Linked DNA regions of Homo sapiens: region 1 is linked to region 2. The links come from fine-mapping of genetic effects on gene expression. A gene starts in region 2. The other region holds a variant in brackets. All regions are shown on one strand. Distances are from middle to middle. Region 1 overlaps LINC02828 (long intergenic non-protein coding RNA 2828). Region 2 holds the start of C6orf62 (chromosome 6 open reading frame 62).

What was found.
Region 1: its variant is fine-mapped to the expression of C6orf62 in whole blood (INTERVAL, PIP 0.94).

Annotation. Positions count from the first base shown.
Region 1 is chr6:24,748,224-24,751,138 of GRCh38, reverse strand. LINC02828 (long intergenic non-protein coding RNA 2828) reads right to left here. Exons shown (of 3, transcript NR_183315.1): 2 at 1,991-2,143. It also overlaps the pseudogene AP3S1P1. Among named protein-coding and RNA genes, the nearest start is that of LINC02828, 7.4 kb to the right of the region's middle. The variant T/A (reference allele first, on the strand shown) is at 1,665.
Region 2 is chr6:24,717,682-24,720,596 of GRCh38, reverse strand. It overlaps C6orf62 (chromosome 6 open reading frame 62), which reads left to right and starts at 1,443. Exons shown (of 5, transcript NM_030939.5): 1 at 1,443-2,057. The coding sequence starts at 1,929. RefSeq lists a silencer at 230-399 and an enhancer at 1-762.

The DNA.
Region 1 (2,915 bases), 31 kb before region 2:
CTTGGGAAACTTACAATCATGATGGAAGGGGAAGCAGGCACGTCTTACATGGTGGCAGGAGAGAGCTAAGAGTGAAGGGGGAAGAGATCCTTACAAAACCATCGGATCTCATGAGAACTCACTCACTATCATGAGAACAGCCTGGGGGAACCTCCCCCATGATCCAATTACCTCCTTCCCTTGACATGTGGGGATTACAGGTCCCTCCCTTGACCTGTGGGGATTACAATTTGAGATGAAATTTGGGTGGGGACACAGAGTCAAACCAGATCAGAGACCAACAAGAATGAGCTTGTTACACAAATTAATGTGCAAAATAAGCTGAAAAAAACAAAGGTTGGCTTTACAGGAACCTAGCAGCCCATGCTGTATCAGCTGTATAGAATATAAACCCTCCCAAGAGTCCAAGAAACATTAACACTGGTGACATCGGTATAAAAGTGCCAAACCTGCCCTCTTTTAGATAAAAAATGTAAAAGACTATTTTCAGTAAAATCCAGGGGAAAAGGTCATCCAAGTTTACCTTGTAGTTGTTTACCAAAACTAAAGGAGAGTCTTAACTTTTGCTCTTGGATTTAAGTCAAGGTACTGTACAGAAGTTATATAAAATCGGTATGTGAAGTTCAATGTACCTTTTCTTGTTCAGTGATTTTTAAAGAAATCAGATAGTTCCAGTGTGATTTGTTTTCTTTTCTAAACTTCTATGCTCACCAAAGTCATTCCCTATATATTGGCTACTATGATATTTTGAAAAGTGTTTGTGATATTTCGTTATGTATCACCCAAAACATTGGTATTTTGTATGGATTACAAGTGCAGCATTCCTTAAGTCTTTCTGCTATCTGTGACAATTGTCACTTAAAGAACTAAGTGTATATTGTGTGAAAATATTATGACTTATTTATTTATTTATTTGAGACAGAGTCTCACTCTGTCACCCAGGCTGGAGTGCCATGGCGCGATCTCAGCTCACTGCAACCACCACCTCCTGGGTTCAAGAGAGTCTCATGCCTCAGCCTCCCAAATAGCTGGGATTACAGGCATGCATCATCACGTCCAGCTAATTTTTGTATTTTTAGTAGAGACAGGGTTGGCCAGGCTGGTCTCGAACTCCTGACCTCAAGTGATCTGCCTACCTGGACCTCCTAAATTGCTAGGATTACAGGCATGAGCCACCACACCTGGCCATGACCTTTTTTCTTAGTTTAAATAAACTGCAATACAAAAATTCAAGTGAAACAATTTTTATAGGTCTATAACACAATATTATCTGCAGTCCATTAGATTAGGTATGGCTGTGAACATTTAATCATAACTTTTCAGTTGCAATTTTATGTTCACATTATATTTGGATACCTCTCAATATTTTTAAAAGAAAATTTTCAACCATATATGGCTGGTCCACAGATTTGTCACATCCCCTTTGTTTTGAAAATTTTCAAATGTATATGAAAATGGAAAGAATATTATTATGAAAGCCTGTATACTCTCTGCCTAGATTCAACAACTGTCATCATCTTGACAAATTTATTTAACGCTCTGTATATCGTTTTTTAAAAACTGAACCATTTGAAAGTCATTATGACACTTGCTTCTTCTAGTTCCTCTCCCTCTTCCTGAGTTTTTAGTTTTGTTTTCCGACTTCCTATACATGGGTTCCTTTT[T/A]CTAGCAACCTTACATAGCCTTCTTAAAAAGGAGAGAAGTTCTCTTAACTTTATGTTCATCTCCAGCTACCACCATCTGTCTCTTTCTTTCTCACAGCCCACTTTCTCAAAGCAGAGTCCACACTGCTGTTTCTACTTCCTCCCTCTCAGTGGGCCTCACTGGACTGTGGTGTGCCATCCACACAACTTCACCTTGGCACCATCTGGAGCCTCACGACTGGGAAACTCAACAGAGGCCAGGCTCCTCTCTTTGGCATATTTCATACTGTTGAGCTCCATCTTGAAATCCGTTCCTCCTGCCAGGGCATCGTTCACTTCTGACTCACCTGCTTTTCCAGCTGTCCCTGCTCGGGACCCTTCGTCAACTCTCCTTTCTACTTGCCTCTTGAATCTGGGCATTCTAAATGGCCCCATCTCCATCCTTAGTCTCAAATCAAGAGCTTAACCATTTTGTCCCTTATTACCGGAATTTCACGTATCTGTAAGAAGATGGAGAGAAACTCTTTATGTGAGAGAACCCATGAGGATGTCTGCTTCATGAACTGCTTCATTTTGATCCTCCAGTTATAGTTCTTCCGGCTTTTGCAGTTTTAATAAAACCACACCCAGAGGCTATTCAGAAGAAGGAATGCAGGTAAAAGGCAAAAATGATCTTGCTTGTTAGTGACCTAGAGACAAGATTTGATGGAGAAAGAAGCAGAATATTGTCTTTTTTTTTTTTTTTTTTTTTTTTGAGACGGAGTCTCGTTCTGTCGCCAGGCTGGAGTGCAGTGGTGCGATCTTGGCTCACTGCAACCTCCAACTCCCGGCTTCAAGCAATTCTTCTGCCTCAGCCTCCTGAGTAGCTGGGATTACAGGCACGTGCCACCATGCCCGGCTAAGTTTTGTATTTTTAGTAGAGACGGGGTTTCACCATGTTGGCCAGGGTGGTCTCCATCTCTTGACCTCGTGATTCGCCCACCTCGGCCTCCCAAAGTGCTGAGATTACAGGCATGAGCCACTACACCCAGCCTGTTGTCTTTCTTTATTATGAAGTTGTAGGATGTTATTTATCCATGATAAAGTCCTATCTCCCCCATTTCTACAGCTAATTTAAAGTTGACTATTAGAAACCCTATTCACAGGTCAAATACAGACAACACACATTGATTTCTAGCCATAATGCTTCACAGAGCTAATTAGTCTGTTTTGCTTGCTTGAAAGATCTGTATCTAATTTTTTAAGCATCAAAAGAGAAAAGCATATTCAACT
Region 2 (2,915 bases):
CTTAGCGCAGGGCTTCCTTTCCCTTCCCCCTCCGCCGCCAGTACCAATCCAACTCCCCATCTTTCTCTTTGTTTTTCCTCTTTTTCTTTTTCTCTCCCTGTTGCCGCTGTCTCCGCGTCCTTCCCCTCCGTTGCCGCCCAGGGCGCCGAGCCAGACTATGGGTCCCAGGTGGGGGCTGAGCGGCGGCAGCAGCGCGGGCGGTCCAGTCACGGTGCGCACTGCAGCGGGGATGGAGGGGCTCAGTTGGCTGGTGGTTTTCTCTTGACATGGCTCCTGCCCGTGCTACCAGCAGCGCCCCCGCCGCCGCCGCCTCTTCCGCCGCCGCCACCGCTCCGCCCGCAGGCTGCGGCTAGAGGGCCCAAACCCCGCCCTAGAGTCGGTCCGTGAGTCCCGGGCTCCGCGGGGACAGGGAGGGGATTTCCCCGTCACCCACCCCGCCCTAGCTGCCTCAATTCCACCCCCTGCCCCTCGGGAAACAACTAACGACCCCACCCTAAACAATCCAAACTCTGGAAACATGGTCTGTTCAACGTGAGAGAGAGCTAATCCGGGAACTTAATTTTTTGGGGGGAGGGTGGGTGGGCTTACTTTAGAAGTAATATTAACACAATTATTTTCTTTTTTTCCCCCACTGAACCTTCCCATTTACCCTCTCCCGCCCACTCCACCCGGGCGGGAATTGTTTCCACGATGAAATGAGTGAAAACCTGAGTGATCCTGTGTCTCCCGTGGTGCGAGTGAGTCGCTGCCGCTGAAGGCAAGGGGTGGGGGTGGGACCTGCGGGGGTGGAAGGCAGGTGGTCTCCGGGCACCGCCTGGGATTTGGGAGAAGAACCCGCCACCTTTGCCTCGGCAATGCTCACAAGAAGATAAATCGCACTCCCCACCATTTTGAACGGGGGCAGATCCACAGGGAAGTCTCCCTTGGGGAATGTAGGACTAGTTGCAGGCTGGGGGTGTTGGGAACCCGGGCATTAATCAGGTCTAACCACAGAGCCGGAATAATTAATACCGTATTATATACCCCTTTTCCTTCTGCCGTCATGATTCTCCTTGGCAGCAGCGTTAGCAGCCGCCTGAGGGTGAAAATGTGGGTGATGGGGAAGTTGGTAATGACTCCGCTGTTTTTTCTCATGGCTCCTTTGGGCCACAGCTGCCCGCCCCCGGTATACACTGTAGTTGATTGCAGGGAAACCCTGTACCTCTCCCTTTCCTTCTCTACCGATTTTGCACTTTTCTCTATGCTCACCACCAAGTGTAATCAATAACAAGCACTGACAATACATAGCAATAGTGAAATCTGAAATAACTAAGAATTAGGTACTACAGCCATGGAGCTGGCTGGGTAAAATCTAATTGGATATTTCAGTTTCATTCACCTACCCTGTTTTGGTGTTTGGTTTTGGTTTTGGTTTTGGTGAGTTTTTTTTTTTTTTTTTTTTGGAAAGCAAGGATCACACTTCCCCCTCCCTGTTCCTTAATCCCTTTTCTAAAAAGGGGGGAAAATCCGGATGGATTTTAGGGATTGGTCTGGTGTCAGCTGTGTTTTATTGCACACCTAAATCCTGATTATAGGCTTTTCATTTCTCCGCAAAGCCTTTATTTTGGCAGTTAAGCCAAATGTGTTTTCCAGAAAGTTAGTTATTTTCTCCTCTTTCTTTCCTTTCTTTCCTCCCTTTTTCCCGTCTGACCCCAAACGTTATTGTCCAAACATGACTGGACAGCAGCTTTTGTTTCTTGACCCTGTAATATGACAGTCTGCTAATATTGACAGAAGGTGCAGTTTTTGGGTTATAGTCGTGATTTTCGCTAATCAATCATATTAGCAGGAAAAAAAATGACTTGTTTCTGTTGTACTTGAGTCTTAAGAAAAAGTGCCCATAGTTTAGTGACAATTTCCAAAGGCTTTAGTACCACCTGTATTTCAAAATGGGGGACCCAAACTCCCGGAAGAAACAAGCTCTGAACAGACTACGTGCTCAGCTTAGAAAGAAAAAAGAATCTCTAGCTGACCAGTTTGACTTCAAGATGTATATTGCCTTTGTATTCAAGGAGAAGGTAATTTAAAGTTCTTAATGGTGAATTAGCACAAGTAATTTTTGTAAGTGTATATTATTTGTTACTCTTAAATTATTATGAATATTAGGTTAAAGAGTGGTTGAAAAAAAGTCTGCTTTGTATGCTCTGTTTTTTCACCCTTAGGGGTGATTCTGTGAATTGAGCAGTTGCAGCATGCGAAAAGACCCTTGAGCGTTCTTTGGTTTGGAAATAAATTTGAGTCTGAAGCTTAGTAGTAGTATACACTGAGTTGACATGGGGTGGGCAAGATTACAAAATTTTATATGGAGTTAACATGGGAAACCTTATGATGGAATTTAAAGATTATCTAATGTAGAGTATAAATAAGATGGTTGAAAGTGTGAAATTGTAATCAGACTGTTTATATGCTAAAGTTTATCCTGTTTCTTAAACTGCGTAATGTAGGTAACCTTTTCTCTTACATTTAATGAAGTAGAATACACCTTTTAGGAGCAATTAAATACTGAAATGGTTAATTTGTGTTTAGAAGTGTGATTTTCTTTTTTACTTAGAGTTCATTTTGCCTTGTATAGAAGTACAGTTTTTAAAAACTCAAAATGACCTAGAGGAAGTTTCATTTTTAGGGGCGGTGGAGGTCTTAATCAGAATTAGTTCCGCAGTTAAATAGCAAACAGTAAGTTGTGAGTAGTCAAGGATGGGATGATAAGAGCAGTATTTTTTGCAACTTAAAATGAACATTTTCTTAAATTATCAGCAAGGCTTATTTGACCAAAGATGAGGTTATGAATGTAAGGAAGTGCTACTTGGATTTTGGTGCTTAAATTGTTAGCTAATTTCAGATCAGAAATACAATCTTAGTGTGGTATCTATTAAGTA